Linked DNA regions of Homo sapiens: all the other regions are linked to region 1. The links come from fine-mapping of genetic effects on gene expression. A gene starts in region 1. Each other region holds a variant in brackets. All regions are shown on one strand. Distances are from middle to middle. Region 1 holds the start of LINC02716 (long intergenic non-protein coding RNA 2716). Region 2 overlaps SLC35C1 (solute carrier family 35 member C1). Region 3 overlaps CRY2 (cryptochrome circadian regulator 2).

Evidence for each region. PIP is the estimated chance that this variant, and not a neighbour inherited with it, causes the effect.
Region 2: its variant is fine-mapped to the expression of LINC02716 in hippocampus (GTEx, PIP above 0.99). The same link has a PIP of 0.9 or more in amygdala, anterior cingulate cortex, aorta, breast, hypothalamus and lung.
Region 3: its variant is fine-mapped to the expression of LINC02716 in prefrontal cortex (ROSMAP, PIP 0.95).

The regions. Positions count from the first base shown.
Region 1 is chr11:45,766,002-45,776,058 of GRCh38, forward strand. It overlaps LINC02716 (long intergenic non-protein coding RNA 2716), which reads left to right and starts at 5,431. Exons shown (of 2, transcript NR_027134.1): 1 at 5,431-5,713; 2 at 5,992-6,357. RefSeq lists an enhancer at 5,123-5,624.
Region 2 is chr11:45,806,185-45,811,184 of GRCh38, forward strand. SLC35C1 (solute carrier family 35 member C1) reads left to right here. Exons shown (of 2, transcript NM_018389.5): 1 at 1-152; 2 at 4,592-5,000. Among named protein-coding and RNA genes, the nearest start is that of SLC35C1, 3.5 kb to the left of the region's middle. RefSeq lists an enhancer at 1,184-1,243. The variant A/G (reference allele first, on the strand shown) is at 2,463.
Region 3 is chr11:45,847,994-45,856,991 of GRCh38, forward strand. CRY2 (cryptochrome circadian regulator 2) reads left to right here. Exons shown (of 12, transcript NM_021117.5): 2 at 7,989-8,097. Among named protein-coding and RNA genes, the nearest start is that of CRY2, 5.0 kb to the left of the region's middle. RefSeq lists enhancers at 1-194, 4,606-4,745 and silencers at 143-252, 4,325-4,619. The variant CT/C (reference allele first, on the strand shown) is at 3,036.

The sequences.
Region 1 (10,057 bases):
CAGAAGGAGAGATTGGAGTGATGTGGCTACAAGCCAAGGAACACCAAGTGCTTCTGGCAACCACTGTAAGCTGGGCGAGGTATGGAGCCGATTCTCCCCCAGAAGCTCCAGAAGGAACCAACCTTGCCCCACCTTGTCTGAATTCTAGCCTCAAAAAATGTGAGAGAATAGGCTGGGCACAGTGGCTCATGCCTGTAATCCCAGCATTTTGGGAGGCTGAAGCAGGAAGATCTCTTGAGGTCAGGAGTTCGAGACCAGCCTGGCCAACATGGTGAAACCCTGTCTCTACTGAAAATACAAAAATTAGCCGGGCATGGTGGTGGGAGCCTGTAATCCCAGCTACTCAGGAGGCTAAGGCAGGAGAATCGCTTGAACCCGGGAGGCGGAGGTTGCAGTGAGCTGAGATCAATCTACTGCACTCCAGTCTGGGCGACAAAGCAAGACTTCATCTAAAAAAAAAAAAAAGTGAGAGAATAAATGTTTGTTGCTTTAAGCCCCCACGTTTGTGATGCTGTTTTACAGCAGCAATAGGGAACTCCTGCGTCTTCCCAGCCAGCATCCCCAACACCTCTCCTCAGGCCAAGCCCTATTTCTCTTGAGGCTCTGTGCTGTTCAGTGACACTAACCTGCCCCCCAGCCAGCCAGCCTTGGCCCATCAGCACATTCTGTCTCCAGCCTCTGAGATTGGTGCAGGGACGGTATGTGACCTGACCTGAGGCCATGAGACCTGAGACATTTGCTGCCAGCTCCTGAGAAAGAAGCTTCCTCGCTTCCAGAACAAACACTCTCTCTCCTGTTAGACCCGAACAAGGACGCCATCGTGCTCCAATGAGGGTCTGAGAATACATGGATAAGCAGACTGTTTCTCCCACTATACACTCACAGTGGGCTTCTTACACCAGATGGGTGTTTGGGGAGGCGTTCCCACATAGTAAGCAAGCAATCAATTACGCAGCAGACACCAGTTCGGTGTCCTCTAATTCAGTTCACTTCCCCACCTGGAGATAGCGTCAGGTTCCACAGGCTAAGGACTCAGTCCCCAAGATGCTCCCCTTCTCCCGATGCCAATCACAAGTCCCAGAGTATTTTAGCTGTGCTTCTGACCAACTGACTATAATTGAGGTTCCCACAATCCCCTCATTGGTTGGATTAATTTGCTAGAGCAGCTCACAGAACTCAGGGAAACACGTTGACTCACTTATTATAAAGGATACCACAGAGGACACAGATGGGCAATGCATAGGGCAAGGTATGGGGGAGCAGAGCGCCATCCTCCAGGAGCCCCGTGTGTCCAGCTGTCCAGAAGCTCTCCAGACCCTGTCCTTCAGGGTTTTTATGGAGGCTTCATTACACAGGCGTGATTGATTAAGCCATCGGCCATTGGTGATCAACGTAACTTCCAGCCCCTCTCCCCTCTAAGAGAGAATGGGAGTGGGGCTGAAAGCCCCAGTCCTCTAATCCTGCCTTGAACTTTCTGGAGTAGCCCCCATCCTCAAGCTACCTAGGGGCTGCCAGCCAACTGTCAACTCATTAGCATACAAAAAGACACTTACCACTTTGGAGATTCCATAGATTTTAGGAGTAACATGCCAGGAAATGTGGACAACAACTCAATATGTATTTTACGATATCACAAAGGGGAGCCAGCCTCCAGATGAAACCAGCAAAATGGGACCCAGAGTGGAGAGACAAGGACACTGGTCCAGGGGCTACTGATTCAAGCCTCACCTGAAACCCACATCACCTCCAGACTTCTGAGCTATGTGAGCCGCTAATTCCTTCTTGGGTTTAAGCCAGCGAAGTTTCAGCTCTCTACTCCTTGAGACTGAAAGAGTTGACTAACTCCTGTGAGGCTGGATCCATGAAAACAAAGGCTGTCATCATGATCAGGGCTCTCATCCTATCTCAGCTCCATTTCCCTCTGGGTTGGTTTTGCCCTTAGGCAGGCCCTGCTTTCCTAGTGACAAGATAACACCTAAAATCCAAATTCAGCTTAGCAATCCCCCTGGAAAGAAAGTATGTCTTTTATACCAGTCAGGTGTCTGCTGCACCAATGCCATGCAACAAGCACTCTGAAAATCTCAGTTGCTTATAACAACCATTCCTTTCATACTCATGGGTCTGCAGGTTAGTTGGGGGGTTGTTAATATCAGAGTTAGGCTGGACTCCAGTCTCTGGTTAGGTTCAATTTGCCCCACAGTCTCCATCCTGGACTCCAGATGAAGGTGCCATGGTCGCCTGGGTGTACCTTCCTTTCTCATGGTGGGCAGGAGCTCTAGAGGGGCAAGCGGAAACACAAGATACTTCTTTAAGGCCTAGCTTGGAACCCACACATCATCACTTCTACCGACATTCCATTGACCAAAGCAAGTCAGTGGCTGAGCTCACCATGGATGGTGTGGGGAAGAATATTCACCCACAGTGAACCATGCAAGGGAGGGAGGGAATGAAGAAGCCTCAGCAAAACTCCATCAAACACGTCTTCCTCAACAGTGCCTCAAAGATCTTGGAACTGACTCATTGGCCTGGCCTGGGGTCAATGCCTGAGGGAGGTAGGAGTAAGGGTACAGCTAGGGGTCTCCCATATGGGAAGAAGGGTTATTTCCCAAATGGAAGTCAAGGTGTTGCTGACACAAGAAAGGGCAATGGATCCCACATAGGCAATGAATAAATAATTACATAAACCAGCACTCAGCAAACGGCAACGTGAAAATAAATCACCTGAGATGCTATTACAATGCAGATTCTGAGAGCCAGGCATGGTGGCTCCGACTGTAGTCCCAGCTACTAGGGAGGCTGAGGCTGGAGGATCTCTCAAGCCCAGGAGTTCGAGGCTGCAGCAAGCCACAATCGCACCACTGCACTCCAGCCTGGAAGACAGAGCAAAATCTCATCTCTTTAAAGAAAAAAAATTCATTTAATAAAAAATAATGCAGCTTCTGATTCAGTAGGTCCAGGGTGGGGCCTGAGATGCTGCATTTCTTTTTTTTTTTTTTTTTTTTTGAGACGGAGTCTTGCTCTGTCACGCAGGCTGGAGTACAGTGGCGTGATCTCGGCTCAGTGCAACCTCCGCCTCCCAGGTTCAGCAATTCTCCTACCTCAGCCTCCTGAGTAGCTGGGATTACAGGCACGCACCACCATGCCCAGCTAATTTTTAGAGACGGGGTTTCACCATGTTGGTCAGGCTGGTCTCAAACTCCTGATCTCATGATCCACACGCCTTGGCCTCCCAAAGTGCTGGGATTACAAGCGTGAGCCACCGAGCCCAGCTGAGATGCTGCACGTCTAAACAGTCCCAGATGATGCTAGCAAGGACCAGTAGCAATGAGCAAGACTGAAATTGGGAGAGTCTCTCAGCCTTCTGATGCCACATTCTCATTTACAAAATGATAATTCCACCTGCCACACAGACTTTTCTCAGCCAGGAAGATGGTGCCCTCGGGGGGATAAGGTGATGCGACATTTGTGCTGTCACTCACCTCCTGCCTGCCCCCTGCACCTCGAGGCCTCCCTCAGCCCCCAGGAAAGGACTCACAGCCCAGCCAGCAAGGAGACAGGAGGAAGATATCACAAAGTGAGTGCAGCTTCTGTTAACTGCCTTAAGCTGCTCCCTGCAATAATGTTGGTGTAATCCATAAGATTCAATTATGGTTATCAGACAATTAGGCACACCACAGCGAGGTTATTGCATAATTAATGCTCAGTCCCCATCTCAGCCTCTGAGAGTGACACAGGTTACAAGATTCACCTGCCCCGCATCTGGGAGAGGAGCAGGGGCACCCAGGATGGGGAATGACCTCCCTGTGGGCTCAGAGGAGGATGTTCTTAGGACCCCAGAGGCATGGCAAAGGGACAGTGTGTGGCTGAAAGAGCTTGAGTCAGTGTGTGCCCAGGGCCCTCACGCCTGCCATTGTGTTTAGGACTTGGGCTTTAATCTCTGGAGCGAGATTCAAATCCTGCCTCAACTACTGATTGGCTATATGGCATTAAGCACTCGCCTTACATTTTTAAAGCCTCCATCTCCTTGTCTTTTAAAGAAGGGAATTGATGATGTTATGAAAACTGGATGAGAGAGTTTGCATATTGGTTAGATGGTTCCTGCAGTACTATTTTCATTATTTCCCTCTCTGAGCCTCAGTGTCTTCATCTGTAAAATGGGAATAATTAGCCTCACCTTGCCTAGGCTTGAAAGATCAGCCGGTAGTTTGAGACCTGCCTGGGCAATATAGCAAGACCCTGTTCACCACAAAAAAGGAAAAAAAAAAGGATGAAAGATCAGTTTGTGAGTCAAGTAAGACACACATGTGAACGGGATGTGTGGAGTGCTTTGCTAACGCGCCATTGTCTTAGTTACTATGTGCCTGGTTTTCTGCTCAACCCTCCAGGGTACGACTTTGTACAAGTCCCCAGGTCTCAACAGGACAGTGGGTGATCAGCCCACCTGAGAAGTGAAACTCATGATTTGGGTGAGTAGACTAGAGGAGAATCACTTCTTTCTTTCTTTTTTTTTAGACGGAGTCTCGCTGTGTCACCCAGGGATCTCAGCTCACTGCAACCTCTGCCTCACCGGTTCCAGTGATTCTCCTGCCTCAGCCCCCCGAGTAGCTGGGATTACAGGCACACGCCACCACACCTGGCTAATTTGTTATTATTAGTAGAAACGGGGTTTCACCATGTTAGCCAGGCTGGTCTTGAACTCTTGACCTCAGACGATCCACCTGCCTCAGCCTCCCAAAGTGCTGGGATTACAGGCATGAGCCACCATGCCCGGCCTGAGAATCATTTCTTGAGCTATGATCTGTAACATTCAAATGAGCCTCAACGGACACAAAACAGAAAAATCATCAAAAATGTCGGTGAAAAGTTCAGGTGGGAGAACTCAGGTGATGGTGCAGACAGAAGCAAGTAGGGGAGAAAGCTGGCTTCAGGGAGAGTGGTTAGGCCTTTGTGAGAAAGACTGGGGACTTCTCATATCATCCTCTGTGTCCCAGTTCCCAAAACACACACGCACATGGGCACATGCATGCAGGCACACAAAAACAAGCCCATACACCAGACGAAAAAATACAGATGCAGGTACACACACATGGACATGGACATGTGTGTGCCTGTGCCCATATAAACAAACATTAGTGCACACACACACTCACACACACACAGGCTCGGGCAGTATGTGCTCACACACAACCATACACACAGATACGCACAGAGGTACATTCACACACAGACCAACACACACAGGCACACAGATGCATGCACGCATGCACGTGCGCGCACACACACACACACGTGCACCCACCCTCAGTGATAACCTTCCAATCCACTGGCCTCTCCGAAATTAGCACAGACCATTTTCCCACGACCCTTTCTCGCTGAGCGTGTGATTCCAAAACTGTCCACAAGAAGGTGCTCGGGAGCCAGAATTCAGGCGTTCCCGGCCCGCGGACGCTTAGAGAGGGGAGCTTCGGAGTTATGGGGGGACCCACCCTTCCATTTAATAACTGAGAAAGCCACGGGAGGGGACTTGCTGGGCTCACAGCCAGTGATCCCTGCCCTGTTTCCTTATGGGGACTGCGGTCAGAAATGGGGAGTGGGGCAGAAACTGTCACTGTCACGGTCCTGTTTAGAGAGGAAGGTCGGAGAAACCAGTGCCGTGGAAGGCTCTGGGGCGTTGACAGGCGCTGTCCCCAGCTCACCGGCTCTATGACCCTGGGTAAGTTACCTGGCTTCTCTGTTCCTCAGTTTTCTCGTCTTCCCTGACCCAGGCTTTCCCGACTCCTCTAGGGGCCCCTTCCCCTCTCCATGAACACCTTCAGATCTCGGACTGTTTTCTCCACTCAAGTGGCATCTCAGCTATCCCCTCCCGGGTTAGGCCTCCCTGGCCCCTATTTAACGGTGTCCCCACCCCCACCACTATCTTGTTTGTACCAACACTTGCTGCCTGACAATGCACACTTGTTCATTTGTTCACGTTTATTTTGTCTTCTCCAGAAGAATGGAAACTTCGTCAGAGCAGGGACGTGAGGGTGAACTGCTCACCCGGGCACCGCTGGCGACCGGAACCCAGCTCCCTCCGGGCTCCGGGAGAGGCGGCCTCAGCTGTGTGCTGGTGCTGCCCTCCAGCGGCGCTGGGTCCCCATGGCACCTGGCTTTCTCCTGCTCCCCAGGGGCCTTTTCTTCTCCCGCCCACCTGTCACCAGCCGCCAGGGCAAGTCTCTGTGTGACTCTAGGGTGAAGGTGGAGGGACCTTGCCTCCGAGGATTCATCCCACCCGGATTCCGATGAGTGAGGGACCCTCTCTGGCACCTGGTGTTTGAATGGCCAGCCTCACAGTTAATAAAGACAAGTTTGGTATCAGCTGTGGGATCCGTCCAGAAAAAGACACCTTTGGGGCAGAAATATAATGGTGCCTGTCTCGACATAGTCTAATAAGGAAAGAAAGACAAGCCAGTCCAACGGTCCCATTTTACACATGAGGTCACTTCATCCCCACCTAGGACAGGAGGGTACAACGGCCTGGCCTAAGATAACCCTAGAATATGGTCACTCATTCTTCCACCCACTGAGAACCTCAGGGCAGTAGAGTTTTATGCAAAGCATGTGGTCCTGAAAAACTTGCATAATTCAAAGCGTGCATAATTTCTGACTAATTTTGCCAGAGAAATGAATGCAAAGTAGAAAGGATAGGTTGCATACATTACTCCAATTGTGGCATATTTTTGCCTTAATGCTGCTTTTTATTTCCCTGGCATTATCGCTAATATTTCATAACGCACTCTCTGCTAAATTAACAGTGCAGCATTTCCTGCCGGTGGTTTGGCCTTCTTCATAACGTTTTATCACATCTCACTTCCTTTCCAATGTTATCGATTTTCAGGTGCGTTTTTCAGCACCACCACTTAAAGAACACTTGGATGACATTGTTACAGGATATGGGTAAAATATTTAAAGTTATAATAACTGTGAACATTGAGAAAATGGCACACCAGTCACCAGAATCTCCTGCAGAAATTAGAAATTCAGAGGCATGTAAACAACAGTGCATGCATATAGAAAGCAGGTATTTCTATTTAATAACCAAAGCAACGTCGCCATGTGGCAGGTTTACAGTCCTCATTTAACAGCTCACTTAGTTCCTCCGACTCAAGGAAACTGCAATTCTTGACAGGTTTTTTTTTAACTGAGGGGCTTGGCATTATTTCCAGCTTAGTGCATAAACATGTATTAGCATTTTTATATTGCACCTTGCCAAAGTCACAGTTTAGACTCCCATAAACAGTGACTTCACCCTAAATGGTCACCCTAAATGGTTAAGGCTGTGTCCTTAACCCCAGAAGGGTGGAAATGTATGACTCCACCTAGTCATCTCAGATACGGATTTCAGAAATCTCAGCCACCCACCTCATACTTACACAGGGACCTTTTTGGAGGCAGCATCATCTGAGGCCGCTCTTGCCCAATTTGGCTGGCCCCACCTCCTCCCCAACGTCATCTTCTCTTGCAGTCTAGAGAGGGGGGCTACTCCCCCAATATAGCATCCATATTTAGATCCATGTTGGAGGGTGGGTAGAAAGGGGAGGTAGGATGAGGGAAAATTGAGTCTCAGTTTCACACATTTGTAAGATCGTCAGACTTTCCACATTGCCAAGAAACTCGTCAGCACAACCGCTGTGAATTGGCTTCTTGGCCTTCGTCTGCCCAGAATTGCTTCCAGAATGGCTCCTTCAGCTTGGCCTGAGCTTGGCCCCAGAAAGAGTGCCACGGGCCCTAGGAAGGAGGAAAAGTGGGGCATTCAGGGCAGGCTCTGAACCCACTTGGATTCCAGTCCTGATTCCATTTGCATGTGACCTTGAGCAAGTCTCTATGCAAGGCACTTCACCTTTCTGGGCCTCAGTTTCCACCTCTGTCAAATGGGGATAATAATACCATCTACTTCCCAGAATTGGTGCCAGAATGAAAAGCAGTCCCTGCTGTGATAGTGTCTAGAACAGAGTAAGTGCCCAATAAATATTCCTTCGCTCTTGTTGCAGTTAGAAAAGCGACTGGATGAGGCGTACATTTACTGGTACCCTGGGATGTATAAGGGCCAGTGTCCGGGTGAGGCGATCCTGCCCCTCGGAGAATTTATGGTCCAACTTTGGAGAGTGAACCTGCCCTCCCACTAATTCAAGAATTCACCAGCCAGGAGAACTGCATGTGGAATTGCCCGGTCCAGCCCTGACTTTGCGCAAGTGTCCATCAAGTCTCCTTCTGCCTCTGGGCTGCCTCTGAGACTTGAGGGGGAGTAAACAGGAGCCTAGGGGTCTCTCCACCCTCCAGGTGCCCCATCAGGCCGGCACCTCCCCACCAGCCCACCCCTCCCCTTGCAGCAGCAAATCTGCAAATGTGCCTTGCAAGCATGTCCAGTGGGCCAGAAGCCACACTCATCCTCCCCACCCCTTCAGAGGACAGCAGAGGTGCCTGGCCCAAAGGCGGTGGTTGGAGCCTGGGCTTCCTGCCTGGGGTGGGGTGGAGAGGGATCTGCCTTCTCTTCTGGGCCCCTGCCCCCCAGGTTTTTCTTCCTCGATACTCACGTTCCTTTCCCTGGACAATCCCTTGCTCTATGAGGGCCTCAGCTTTCCCCTCTGAAAAATGGGCAGCCTGGACTTCTCCAGCTCCTCCAGCTAAGACATTCATCTCCCTATCTCCACACCAGCCTCGCCGCCAACACCCCGGTCCCTCTCTCTCTCCTCTGCTGTTGTGGGGGCCTGTCCCTGGGGTCACTGAGGCTACTGCTGGCTGGGCTCCCAAGCACCAGAGAAGGACTCCACAGAACAATAGCAGAAGGAAGGGGGCCATTCTTCAGGAGGAGAGAATGAAATGGCCTAGCTCAGCCATGCCTGCCCTAGGTCCAAAGCCCCCAGCTCCATTCCTGCCTCTTCTGCCATGTTCCCATGTTTCTACATATGCATGTCTCCCACCAGACAAGGTGGTCCTGAGAGCAGGAGACACCCAGGCTATCCTCGCTGTATGCCTAGCACCTGGGTGCTGGGACCTGTTTCCTGGTCGGACAGAATGGGCGCCCACCCAGCAGGTGCAAGGATGGTAATGTTTTCCCGGCCTGTAGCCTGAATTCCAAGTGTCCACTCAGGGCCAAACCATGCAGTCAGAAAAGGATTCTCACTGGGCAAGTGGCTCAGGCCTATAATCCCAACACTTTGGGAGGCCAAGGCAGGTGGATCACTTGAGGCCAGGAGTTCGAGACCAGCCTGACCAACATGGCAAAACCCCCTCTCTACTAAAAATACAAAAATTAGCCGGGCATGGTGGCAGGCACTTGTAGTCCCAGCTACTCGGGAGGCTGAGGCAGGAGAATCGCTTGAACCCAGGAGGTGTAATTTGCAGTGACCCGAGATCGCGCCACTGCGCTCCAGCTTGGGTGACAGAGCAAGAATCTCTCTCAAAAAACAAAGCAAAAAGAAAGGACTCTCACAGTGAATAACCTAAGTCTACAAAAATAAAAGAAAGGACTCTACCTCAGGCCCACACTTCCCTCCCCTCTCTGCCTCCCTTCCCCTCTCCCCCAAGCCCCTCTTCTGCTTGCCTCCAGCCTCCCACCTAGAGACTCAGTCATTTCTGGCTCTTTCTGACCCTGCTTTAGAATGAGAAAAAATATGGGGAAGCAGGGGCTTTTGATCATAAGGACAGGGGAAAGGAGATGGGATCCTTATCATGGCCTAGCTTCCGGCAAGATGTCTAAAACTCACATAGAATTGTCTCCTAGGGGAAATCACCCACCTGCATAATTTTCATATCCAATAATACTATAAGAGTGTCTATGTCCTTCCTACCTTGAGTTACATTTCTAAAAATCTTTATCATGTGAGTCACGAAAGGTGCCAGCTGCCAATAAGTGTGCATGGGGAGAGGACAGATAGCTGGGAGTAGAGATTTATGTTGCCTGATAATACTAAAGAATTGCTATACTCAGTTTCATCAAACCCAGGTCCTAATGTCAGCCTGAAATTCTTCCTCCTCCAGGAAGCCCTTCTGGACTGGGAGGGAAAGTCTATGATAC
Region 2 (5,000 bases), 38 kb after region 1:
CACCTTCAATAACCTCTGCCTCAAGTACGTCGGTGTGGCCTTCTACAATGTGGGCCGCTCACTCACCACCGTCTTCAACGTGCTGCTCTCCTACCTGCTGCTCAAGCAGACCACCTCCTTCTATGCCCTGCTCACCTGCGGTATCATCATCGGTGAGTGGCAGCTGGGGCCACGGGGGATAGAGTGGTCATGGGGACTGAAGCAGTGAAGAACAACTCTTCTAGGCATCCTAGGACTTCATCTGTCCCAGCTCCTTTGGTGCAGCAGTCATAGGAGAAAGAGCCTGGGGGCACAGAGAGAGCAAGTAACTTACTAAAGGTCACCCAGCAAGTTAGGAGCCCAGCCGGGGCAAGAACAATAGTAATAATAATAGTAACAACAGCAGCAAAAGCAACTGACATTTGTTGAGTGATTAAAATGTGCCAGGCACATGGATCTTAGCCATATTAACTCAGCTAATCTTCATAACAAGATGGGATTATAATCCACATTTTACAGAGGGAAAAACCAAGGCACAGAGAAGTTAACTAACTTGTCCAAGATCACCCAGCTAATAAGTGGCAGAGCTGGGATCTGAACTCAAGCAATCTGGCTTCACAGTTCACATGCCCGACCACTGTACTTTATTGTTTCTCAAGAGCTCAGGTGTCCTGATTTCCCAGCCAGTGCTCTTAGTAGAGGACAATACGTCTTTTAATAAATATACCATCACTCTCTGCCAGCTCAGGATAGCGCCTGAGACAGTAGCAAGCAATATGCTTTGAGAGGCCTCAGCTGTCTTCCTGGACTTGACCCTCAGAAAATAATAATTATTGATGGGGAAATTATGCTAATTATTTCACATATAGCATCTCCTTTGTTCTCCCAGAGATCCCCTGGGTTGTGGCATCACTACCAGCGGTCATCTCTATACAAACAAGGAAACTGAGGCTCAGAGATGTTACATTACTTGCCCACGGCCACACAGCTAGCAAGCAGCCAGGCTGGGATGCAAACCCAGATTGGCCAGACTCCCAGGCCTGTGCTTCTATCCCCTCTGCTCGTCTTGGAGGTTAGAACTGCAGTATTCAATGCAGTAGCCATTGGCCACTTATTTAAATTAGTTAAAATTAAGCAAAATGTTAAACATTCACTTCCTCATTTGCAGATGTTACAACCTGATTTTCTAGCCACATTTCAAGGGCTCAGTAGCCAAATGTGGCTGAGGGCTATGGTATGGGACAGCACAGGTTAGATGGGCCCATATTTTACTGGGCCCCATGCTGCGTTAGAGAGCCTCCAGCATCCCATTCCCTCCGAGTCTTCCCAGGGCTGCGTCATCTAGGAATGGGGTCTTCATTTGAACCTATGCTGGTTTTTCCTGGTGCTATAAAGTTTATCTTATTTGGCCTACATATCATATTCTTTGCTGATGGCTCAGGGTCCCAGGCTAGATGCACCGGTTGGTGGGGGAAGGGACCCATCCCATGCCACCTGTCCTAGAAAATGTTTCCCCTTGTTGAGCAGCTGCTGGATCTAGGGCTGCTGGGTCTAAGTCCAAGAGGGGAGAAGGGAGAAGGTCACAGTTAGAGTAGGGGAAGCTGCAAGACCCCCCCTGCCAGAACTCTCCCAGCCTGCTTCCATTTCCCTCTCCAGGGAACAGGTGTACCTCCCCTCCTCCCTGTCCTCCTCAGATGCCCCAGGGCTCTCTACTTCATTCCTGCTGACCCTGCCAGGAGTGGCCTCAGGGGTAGAGGCTCCTAGTTGGAGAATTTGCTTGCAGGAAGGTGAAGACACTAGGGTAACTGGGCCCAAATCCCAAAGGTAATCCAAGTAACCAGTGGTGAGGTTCTGAGAATGGTGCATTCACGGGCGTGCCTGACTGGGACAGGGGCCAGGGAGGTGGACGCTCTCTGCCAGCCCAGGACCTGGCTCCCTATCTGCAATGTTTCCTCTTTCTTCCTCCTTGTAGGGGAAGACGAGTCTCAGGCAACTATTCTAGGCCTCCCCTCCTAGCCCCCCATGTCACACAGTAACTTTCAAAGCTCCTTCTGGGCCAGGCACAGTGGCTCATGCCTGTAATCCCAGCACTTTGGGAGGCTGAGGCAGGTGGATCACCTGAGATCAGTAGTTCGAGACCAGCCTGGCCAACATGGTGAAACCCTGTCTCTACTAAAAATACAAAAAATTAGCCGGGCGTGGTGGCATGTGCCTGTAATCCCAGCTACTCGGGAGGCTGAGGCAGGATAATTGCTTGAACCCGGGAGGCAGAAGTTGCATTGAGCCAAGATCGCGCCACTGCATTCCAGCCTGGGCGACAGAGCAAGACACAGTCTCAAAAAAAAGTTCTTTCTGGGCAAGAGTCGCTCTAGAACATTGATGTTGCAGTTGCTTCTGGACTCAGAAGGTAACCACCAGGAGGGCTAGGGGTGCTGTAGCCAAGCAGGTGAGTGGGTGGTGCAGCCCTCTGCCCCCCTCACCCT[A/G]CCCCCAGCAGGTCTGTGGGTACCCCTTGTGCAAAGGTTCTGTCAAGAAAGAGGAGGGTCGGGCTCTGTGGTTGGGCTGGGCATGGTGGCTCATGCCTGTAATCCCAGCACTTGGGGAGGCTGAGGCGGGCAGATCACCTGAGGTCAAGAGTTCAAGACCAGCTTGGCCAACATGGTGAAGCCCCCTCTCTACTGAAAATACAAAAATTAGCCAGGCATGGTGGCGCATCCCTGTAATCCCAGCTACTCAAGAGGCTGAGGCACGAGAATCGCTTGAACCCAGGAGGCGAAGGTTGCAGTGAGCCAAGATCGCACCACTGTACTCCAGCCAGGGTGACACAGCGAGACTCCGTCTCAAAAAACAAAGAGAAAAAGAGAAGAGTGCTGTGTGTTGAGTGCCTATGATGTAGGAAGTATCCTGTCTCCTTTAATACAACCACCTCCATAACAACTTTCATTCATTCATTCCACGACTAGTAATTGGTGGCTAAACACATGCCAGGCACCATGCCAGGCTTTGGGGATACAAGTTTGGAAAAGGTAACCTCAGCTCCTACACTCCTGGAGGGCATGGTGGTGACAGTTACGCTAGCATAGTAAGGGCTGTGATGGGGCATGCATAAAAGGGGCTGTGGGAGCTCTGGGCAAGGGAGGGGACCCGGGGACAGGGCAGTCTAAGCAGGCCTTCTGGAGGAAGTTTAGAAACTGGGTTTAGAGGAAGAAGTAGGGACAGAACATTCTAGATAGAAGGAAGAGCACGTGCACTTCTTCATGGCTGGGCCACAGCAAGACTCACCAGACACAAGGCTGCCCAGTCAGGCCGACTCCACGTGGTGCAGGTCCTAAGAGCTGTGGTGAGTGAGTGGAATTTCTCCTGAAGGCAGTGGAGAGCCACAGAGAGGCTTCACACCAGGGCACAGCCTGGACCGATCTGGACTTCAGGATGATCATATCAGTTGCAAGGTGGAGAGTAGATTGGCTGGAGTGGAGGACAGGGAGGTGACCCAGAGAGCTCAGAGTGGTTAAGTAACTTCTCCCAGGCCACTCAGCTTCTAAATTGCAGAGCCTGATTGGAGGCTAAATCCCTCTGACCCCAAAACTTTCCCCACTGCCCCGTGTTGCCAGATGCTGTGGCAGGAAGTATAACATGCATTGTTCAGCCCCTGGCTTCTGGGAGCATGGGATCTGGCTAAAAAGACCAGACTGTCACCATGGGCAGGGGCCCAGCAGCCCAGAGCAGGCAAGGGGCTTTGCAGGAAAGCGAGGCAGTAAGAGTCCAGGTTCTGGGATTATCAGGAAAGGATTCCCCAGGAGAAGCCAACTTTGACCTTGACAGATGAGTAGAATCCCCCAGAAAGGAGGAGGGTGTTTCTGGCACAGGACATGAACAAGGACACTGAGGCCCAGGGTGAGAAGCAGGGAGACGAGCAGGGAAGCTGGGGCGACCATAGGACAGAGGAAGGGCCTGCACCCCCGCCTGCCACGCCAAGGAGTGTAGTCCTCATGGCAGAAGTGGGGAGCCACGGAAGCTCTTTGAGCAGGAAGTGACACAAGATGAGAGTCTCAGAGTCACTGCCCCAAATGACACAAGAGATTCTAACTTAATGTGCCCCATGATGACATCATAGGCTCCCATTCCATGCAAGAAGCAGCCAAGGCTTAGACACTGGAAGTCATTTACGCAGGGTCACCTTAAATCACATTAACCACTAAGTGGCACTCATTCTTCAGAACTCAGTTCAACTGTTATTTTCAGATGCCCCAGGCCAGCACAGTCGCCCACTTACAGGCTCTCACAGCACCTTGTACTACTTTATGGACCTCATTACAATTCTTACAATTGTAATTAAAGAAGTAACTGGGAAGATTTGTTTTAATGTCTTTCTCCTCTGCTAGCAGATAAGCTGCCAGAGGAGGTTTTCTTGCCCTGGGCGGCTCCCATAGTTCATGTGGAGTGCTTTGCCTGCAGTGGAGACTCTGGCTGTGCTTATTGGAGGGAGGCCTGGGGAGGAACGGGGAGGGCCGCAATACTCAGTCTGTGAAATTTGGTGTCTGATCCTCTGTCCTTCTTCCTCCTCGTCCTCATCCCTCTTCCTCACCCTTCCCCACTCCTCCTCTCCCCACTGCAGGGGGCTTCTGGCTTGGTGTGGACCAGGAGGGGGCAGAAGGCACCCTGTCGTGGCTGGGCACCGTCTTCGGCGTGCTGGCTAGCCTCTGTGTCTCGCTCAACGCCATCTACACCACGAAGGTGCTCCCGGCGGTGGACGGCAGCATCTGGCGCCTGACTTTCTACAACAACGTCAACGCCTGCATCCTCTTCCTGCCCCTGCTCCTGCTGCTCGGGGAGCTTCAGGCCCTGCGTGACTTTGCCCAGCTGGGCAGTGCCCACTTCTGGGGGATGATGACGCTGGGCGGCCTGTTTGGCTTTGCCATCGGCTACGTGACAGGACTGCAGATCAAGTTCACCAGTCCGCTGACCCACAATGTGTCGGGCACGGCCAAGGCCTGTGCCCAGACAGTGCTGGCCGTGCTCTACTA
Region 3 (8,998 bases), 81 kb after region 1:
CGACCTGCCCAAGGACTTGTAGCCAGTGAGTGGCAGAACAGGGGCTCCTGGTCTAGGGCTCTTACGGTCTACTCAGGGAGGGGCGGAAGGGAGATAACGTAGTGTGAGGGCGGGACGGGTTTTTGCTCGCATTCTTCAAGAGCCCGTTGCTGGGCTCGGGGAGATCACTCCGAAGCCTCTGGCTCGTTTGAATCCGCCCTACCACCCATCCTGGCTACCCTGCACCCAGACCGTCCTGCCTCTAGGGGTGTCAAGTGACCCTGGCTTAGCATTAAATAAGGTCTTCTCCCCTATATTATAAATAAAGAAGCCAAAGGCGTCTTCAGGTGGAGTCGCTTTATGTTCAAAGCTCCAGAGAATCCAGGGGATTCTCCAAAATGTTTTAAGCCCTGCTCTGGAGCTTTGACCTCGATAGAAAAATTTAAAAGAATCCAAAGTGTCACCCCGTCATCCTCTTGTCATGATTTTAGAGGACAGTAGAGCCATTAGAGATGAGACTTTTATGAACTGTTGTGGTAAGGTTAGGGAGCAGGAAAGCCATGATATCAAGGGCCCCTCTGATGACCCCCCAGGAGATGGAGTCGACATGATCATGGAAAAAGATGAACAGGTCGTTAGTGTATTTTCACTGTAAACAGTATTCAAACTAAAGAGTTTTGAGACATAATGTACCCATCGCTCTTCAGAACACCTAGTGGCAGTCGCTCGGTTTGTTTGCATTGTTCTGGGGAATGTTTGCTTGTGGCCTTGTTGCATCGATGGACAGGGTTATTTCCAGGATACCGTGGCTCTCGGCACACCATTCTTTTCTCTCCAAGGTGTGTGCCCTGCTAAGAGAGTGAGTGCTGCTAGCAGTGGGCCTGTTCAGTGTCCCCTCCTGCCCAGAAGGAACAACTAAGGAGTCCTGTGGAGAGCCTGCCCACAGTTTTCAGGCTGCCTTATTGCTCTGTCTCTGCTCCAGTTTTCTACAGATAGGAGGTTGGGTTTGACAAGCATCATCAAATGACCATCCCTAGTGTGCACATTAAGCCAAGCCTCAGACTTTGCCCTGCACCAGTCGGAGCCAGGCAAATGGAATCCGACTACCTTCTTGTTACATTGTCACAGAGTTTCTTCTTTTATTGGGTTTTGGGGGACATTGCATAGTACTGCCTACTCTTTTTTGATAGGGAAGATTAAAAATCAACAATAAAATTCCTGTTGATTAAACTCCAGTTTGCTAGGAACCAGGTGTTTATGGATTTTTGTGGGTCATCATTTTGTGATCGTGCTATCAATCTAGTGAAGAAGAAAAGGAATGTGGCTCAGATGCCTGAGTCAAATCCTGAAGTCAGAGGCTGTGTAAGAATGCAGATATTAATTGATCACTTAATAAGTGCCTAATATCTGCCAGGTACTGCTCTAGATGTTGCTAGGGATACAGCAGTGAATAAGCAGATGTGTCTGTGCTCCAGAACTCCTGGAGCCTACATTTTACCAACAAACAACCATAATTTAGTGAAACGAAGTGCCATGAGAAACATAAGATAAGGGGACAGACTAGAGCAGTGGTTCTCAATCTTGGCTGCTGTGCATTGGAATCCCATAAGGGTCTTTAAAAGATACCTGGGCCCCTTTCCCCCAATTCTATTTTTTTTTTTTTTTGAGACGGAGTTTTGTTCTTGTTGCCCAGGCTAGAGTACAATGGCGCAGTCTGGACTCACTGCAACCTCCACCTCCCGGGTTCAAGCAATTCTCCTGCCTCAGTCTCCCAAGTAGCCAGGATTACAGGTGGCCATCGCCACACCTGGCTAATTATTTTGTATTTTTAGTAGAGACAGGGTTTCACCATGTTGGCTAGGCTGGTCTCAAACTCCTGACCTCAGGTGATCTGCCCACCTTGGTCTCCCAAACTGCTGGGATTACAGGGCATGAGCCACTGTGCCCAGCCCCTTTCTCCCAGTTCTGTTAGAATTGTTCTGGGTTATGGCCTGGGCATTAAGGTTTGGGGATTTTTTGTTTTGTTTTGTTTTTTGTTTTTTTTTTTTTTTGAGACGGGGTCCTGCTCAAGTGACAACCCAAGCTGAAATGCAGTGGCATGATCATAGCTCACTGCAGCCTTGACCTCCTGGGCTCAGCGATCCTCCTGCCTTAGCCTCCCAAGTAGCTGGGACTGCAGGCATGCACCACCATGCCTGGCTAATTTTTGTATTTTTTGTAGAGATGGGGTTTCACCATGTTCTCCAGGCTGGTCTTGAACTCATGGGCTTAAGCAATCACCTGCGTCAACCTCCCGAAGTGCTGTGATTGCAAGTATGAGCCACTGTGCCCGGCCTTGGGCATTAAGGTTTTTAAAGCTCTTATTGCAGCAAAGCTTAAGAAGCACTGGACTAGAGAACCTCAGTCCTGAGACGGGCAACCTAGGAAGTATGTTGCAGTGCATTGGCAGGAAGTCTAATTAATGTTGGCATTCAGAAGAAAGAGATGAAGTAACACAAACAGATTGAATATAATAACTGCTCCTGGGCCTGGAAACAGACACACTCCTACCACCTCCACCATTCTGCTTGCTTCCTGGATCAGTTGAAGGCAGAGCTGCATTCTCTTTTGTGCACAAAGTTGGGGATAGAGGGGAGGGCTGGAGCCAGCCATATCTTGACATGACTGTAGTATGTGTAATCGTCCCGTGGTTGTTTCTGGATTCCAAGAGTGGTCTAAGAGAATTGTGCTGCAGCATAATGTCCTAGCTCTGCAACTGCTTAAGTTGTCTCTGAGAAGCCTCCCTGGGAAGGGCAAGGGACCATCTGCAAGGAGGGGAGGACCCAAAATCTGTGACTCTGTTTCCCTCCTGCTCCTTCTACACTGACTCCCACACAATGTTTTTCTGCAGAGGAAATCAGATTAAAATAACTATGAATGGCACTAAGAGTAAAAACGGACAGAGAAATGCAACCAAGAAATACACATATTGATTAGCAAGAAGAAGCCTAGCATACTTCTTGCCCTGGTGATGGTGGGAAGTTTACGGGCTAATTGTAGCTATATGAGCCTCAGGA[CT/C]TTTTTTTTTTTTTTCCAAGTGCTACTTGGCTAAGCCCTTTCACATTTTCCCCAGCCTCACCTTCCCCAGATTTGCTACATCTAGAAGGAGGTACTGCAGCAAGAAGATAAACTAAAGGAAGATGTGAGCAGTTCCTAGATTTTAAAATGACCTCTGTGGTTTTTCATTACCTTTCTCTCCCCACTGCAACTTGGATAGGTGTTAGCAACAGTTCCTCTTCCACTTTATTTAAATCATTTTGTCCCTGGCTCTGTGCTGCGCCTCTTTCAGGAGCTTCTGGGACAGAGGGAATTTGTAGAAATAAAATATGTTCCCTCTCAGCCCATTTCTCTTAGAATTGGTAAATGAGGTAAACTGGGAACTTCCCAGGATGCCCCATGAGAACAAGTGTGTCTCTCTTCCCAGATGCTGAGAGCTGAACACTGTTGGACTGTTGGGAAGTGGATTGAGAACGCTAGTCTACTGGCAGGGAAACAGGAGCTTCTCTGAGCTATTCACATTGGTACCTGAGAGAGGCACTTTACTGTTCTGCTGCCAAGGAAATGTTTCTGTTTGCCCAAAGGGGATAAAAACCTTCATCTTTCTCTTTGAAATTAGGAAAGAATAAATATATTTTTAAAATAATAAGAATTTAATATTTAAGTATTTCTAAATATCACTCAGATACTTAGAAATAAATCCCTGCCAGAGATTGTGAGTTTAGGTTATCCTTTTCCATGGGGCTTAAGCTCTCTTAATTACTTAGGAAAAATTAATTTCTATTAATATCCTATGTAGCCAATCTGTGCCAGCCAGTGGTATCATCATCGTTGTTAGATAACCTTGCCTTGAAGCAGAGGAACTTGGTCAAGGACAGCCTGGACCCAAAAGAATTCACTGTTATCCTCCCTCCCCCCATTAACAACAAATAAATAAAATATTCCTCAACACAGGATCAGCCATTCCTAGAGAAGGCCTTCCCTAAATATGAGTACTTAATCAAAGGATCTGCTTGTTTTATTCTAAAAGGCTAGCCTTGTAGAGTCCCTGAGTTATAGTGTCCTCTCTATATTTTTGGAAATCCCAGTCTGGTTTTCTCCAGTTCTGCCTGCCTCTGGCTCCAGAGCACTTACATAATAATGTAATTCAGTTGCACATGTTGTCTAATCCAAAGGGTAAGCTTTGCTCTCCCAGGACCATGTGCTCTGAATTTTGGCCATGTGAGCTCAGCTAAGAGCTGCCAAGGGTGAAGTGCCAGCCCCCAACACCACCATCTCCAATGCCCAGGCCAGTTTCCTTCAGAGTCCCCTCATTGGAGTAAAGAGAAATTGGAGTAAAGAGGAGGGTTCTAAGGGACCACAGAAGGCCCAAGGTTCTCTCTGGTGAAAGAATGCATATACCTGCCCACTGAGCCTTTGCCCAGTCGCAGCACTGCTCCAAATGTGAGGGACAGCTGTCACCTGGCAGGCCTCAAAGGTAGTACCCTAGTGGTGGCTTCTCATTCTCTGCATTCTCTGGCTGCCTGGAGTCTGGAGATACTGGGGACCCTCCTCACATCCCTGTCTATTGCCTCCGTGTGGTGGCTGTCCTGAGCCCTCCCTTCCCGGGTTGACTCGGGAGGGAAGTTGGAAGAAGCAGAGCATTTCTAGCAGGCCAAAGGGGAGGCAGAAATATGGATGCTCAAGAGAGAAAGTTTAGTACAAACAAACTAGAAGCAAAGAAAGGCAACTTGTAACAGAGACTAGAAGTAAAGTTCAGTTTTCTAGAGTAGTGCTTGTGAAACTTTAATATGCAAATGAATCACCAGGGGATCTTGCTAAAATACAGATTCTAATTTTGGAGGTCTGGGTTAGAGCCTGAGATTCTGCATTTCAACAGACTCCTGGGTGTTTCACAGCCAATGCTGCTGATTGTCAGACCACACTCAGAGGAGGAAAGATCTGGCAGCAGAGGTGTTGCTGGCCTTTGAGTTGGCCTGTGGTGCTCCCTAATGGCTGAGCCCAGGGCAGCACAGCCTCAGTGCTCTGTTTGTTGAGAGGCAGTGGCTGGCTAAAAACGAACATGTCAAGCCTGACAGATTGCCTAGGTTTGAATTCTGGCCACTTACTAGGTATATGATGTTGGGCAAGTTTCATAATCTCTCTATGCCTCAGTTCCCTCATCTATAAAATGGGAATAATAATATTACCTACTTGATTGGGCTGTTTGAGAATTAAATGAGGTAATGTATGTGAAACAAGTAGAATAGTGCCTGTCATTGTAAATGCTTATTAAATGTTAATCATTGCCATTATTATCATTATTTTTATTTAGTTGCTGGGTTCAGAGTTGGGCCTTCTACCAGCCTCACATCTCTGCTTCCTGCTATAAACATCTTTTGTGAAAGAAGAAAAGGGCTCTCATAGGATTAGCTGTACTTTAGAGATGCTACGAGGAATCTCTCCTTTTAGTAAATGAGGTCTAAAAATAAAGTTCTATAGAAGGCAGATTGCTACATGTTCTGGAACCTAGATTTCATGTGCATTCCAACCTTATTTATAGCTTCAAATCAAAGTCCTATGCAGCCTGGTGGACTGTGAAGGAAAAGACCCCCAAAGCGCATGGCAAGGACACTCCTGGGAGCTGCAGATGGAGGACCCTGTGTCCTGGGGTTATGAAATTTAAATCACTGCTCCTAGCCCTAGGCATTCTACCTGGCAGGGTCCAGGTTTCAGATGGCATGAGACCATTTGCATGGATTTCTCTTCTTTTCCTTCCAGAAGAGTGGTGAGGCTTGGGGGAGGCCAACACAAGTGACGCACTTGCAGCTCCCTGTTCCTTTTCTGGAGGTGACAATTTTTCAAAAACAGAAATTCACAGAGGTGGAGCTTTTGGTTTGCATAAAGCAGCATTCAACCTGTTTGTCTTCCATCCCAACCTCTCAGAGAGTCTTCCTCATGCTCTTTTGCAAACATGATGCTTTGAGCCGAGGCCAGGGCTCAGCCCATGCTAGAATGTGGGTCGGTGGCATTGGCCGTAGGAGTGTGTCAAGTTGTGTACGTCAGAGGCAGCAGTGGGGGCTGGTTCTAGTTGGCAGCCTGGGAATAGTCACTGCTTCTGTAAGCCTCCAGTAGTCAGGGAATGTGACTGTGATGTGCCATTTCTATTGTTGACAGAGAAAAATGCTGGGGATGGGTGGAGACCCAAGGGGTAGATAGCAGGTGCCTCAGAGGTATCTGTGACATATGCAGATTGACCTGTGGGTTCTTGAAGAAGAAGATAAGAATGCCAGTGGATTACCTGTAGTCACATTGCTATTAGAGAACAGGATTCCAAACTCCTGAGGGCCTGCAGAATCTCAGCCCCTGGAACAGAGTTGGTGTGCAACTAGAAATCTTTAGAAATGGGGCACAGAACCCTCACGGTGGCTCACGCCTGTAATCCCAGCACTTTGGATGGCTGAGGAGGGCGGATCACTTGAGGTCAGGAGTTCAAGACCAACCTGGCCAACATGGTGAAACCCCATCTCTACTAAAAATATTGTTTAAAAAATTAATTGGGTGTGGTGCACATACCTATAACCCCAGCTACTCGGAAAGCTGAGGCAGGAGAATCGCTTGAACCTGGGTTGGGGAGGTTGCAGTGAGCCGAGATTACGCCACTGCACTCCAGCCTGGGCGACAGAGCGAGACTCTGTCTCAAAAAGTAAATAAATAAATAAAAAAGGGCACAGAGAGGAAAATGTGGGTTTCAGAGTGACCACCCTAGGTTCCTGAATCCCCAGCTTTGTCACTTAACAGCTATGGTCTTAGACAAATTAATTCACCTCTGAGTGTCTCAGTTTCCTCATCTATAAAATAAGGATGGTACTATTTCCTTCAAAATAGTTGAGAGAATTAAATGCAGAAATGCACTTAAAAAGCATGACAGAACCAAAATCCCATTGATAACCTTGGTTGCCTCTGGGGAGTGAGGGAGGGGAAAACCCTTTCTACTATGTACCACTTTGTCACTGGAATTTTGAGCCACATGAATAGTTTATCTGGTTATAATGTTAATTTAATTTAAAAATAAAACGCTGAAGGCACTCAGCAAATGTTAATGTCCTTTCCCTTTCCCCTGGTGATCCAGGTCTCCTGCTGAAGTTCTTGCCTAGCTGCGGTCTTCCCCACCCCCACCCCCACAAAAATGTGAAGATAGCTATTGAGAAGTACCTTTTAAGGCCTTCTCCCTCTTGGGATGAGAACCTGATCACCAGAGCCCTGGAGAGGCCTGGAGAGTGAGCCACCTGCCAAACAAAGCTCTGGGAACTAGGGACCCATTGCAGGCTGTGAGGCTGTGGCAGCAGAAATACGCATGGCCCAGAGCATGCATGCAGAAAGTCAAGGAGTCTTTTCCACCAGAGTAAGGAGGATTTTCCCGGCTGTGGCAGTCTGGTCCTCTGCTAAGAGGACCTTAATGCTTCATACCACAGTATTGCACTGGCTTTTCAGATGGCTCCCACGTGAGTCTCACAACAACCTCATGCTGGGCAGATACTTATATCTAGCCCCAGAGACTGCGAGGGAGTAAGTGACTAGCCTCTGATCACACAGAAACACCACACTAGGAACAGCTCACATTTATCTCATGATGTCTGTGTGCCAGGCACAGTGCTAAATGTTTTTCACACATTATTCGATTTTCTTTTCTTAGCAATTTTATGAGATGGGTACTAACATCAGCTTCACATTACCGGCGAGAAAACAGGCAAAGAGGTTAGGTTATTGCCTAAAGTCACACAGCTAGTAAGTGGCAAGACCAGGGTTTGAAGCAGAGCAGCGCTGATCCACTACCACATCCCTCCTGGGCTGGAACCCAGGCCTCTCCAGCCCTAGTGATCATGAGGCTGCCTGTTGGGCATAAACAGCGAACCAGTTTCTCCCTGCTTTGTTAGGAAAGAGAGCCACTCTTCATGATGTTATCACTAACAAGGCCTGTGTGGACTCCACAGGTTCCTACTTCAGTCTCTGGAAGATTTGGACACAAGTTTAAGGAAACTGAACTCCCGCCTGTTTGTAGTCCGGGGACAGCCAGCCGACGTGTTCCCAAGGCTGTTCAAGGTAAGCGTGCAGAGCCCCAGAGAAGACAGTGAGATTCTGTCCCTGACGGTTTCCCCACAGCCTGAGTGATATGATATTCCGACTGAGGGAATGGAAACATCAGGGCTGGTCTGGCTGTTGCTGCTAGAGAAGTTGGGAGCAAAGGCAGCCAGTTAGCTTGCTCTTGGAATGGAAACTGTGTTAAGGAAAAAAATTCTGGGAAACCAGTGTCTTGTTGGAAAGCTCTCAGCTCAGTCCAGACATAGGATGTGGTAAGTCATTCCACTCTGGATGCCACTGGCTTCCTTCAATGTTTTCTTGGCTCAAGCCAGCCAGATTTATTAGGGTTCCTTCTAGGCCAAGACTTTGAGGTGGGGTTTCATGTCTAGCAAGGTACATTTCCCATCTTGCTTTGCTCTGCTTATTGGGAAAAGTCAGCCTTTTCTGCCGGGCGAGGTGGCTCACGCCTGTAATCCCAGCACTTTGGGAGGCCGAGGCAGGCGGATCACGAGGTCAGGAGATCCAGGCCATCCTGGCTAACATGGTGAAACCCCGTCTCTACTAAAAATACAAAAAATTAGCTGGGCATGTTGGCTGGCACCTGTAGTCCCAGCTACTCGAGAGGCTGAGGCAGGAGAATGGTGTGAACCCGGGAGGCGGAGCTTTCAGTGAGCCGAGATTGTGCCACTGCACTCCAGCCTGGGCAACAGAGCGAGACTCCGTCTCAAAAAAAAAAAAAAAAAGGTCAGCCTTTCTGAGGAAGCTTTCTTGTTTCCCATGGGGTAAATGATTGATAGAAATCTTCATTTTGGTGCCACATAGGTTTCTGTTTGCAGTAACGGGGCCAGTCCACTTTTCCCTCAATCCCTTTAAAAAGTATATTCTAAGGCCCACATAGAAGCACAGGAACTCATGGACAGAG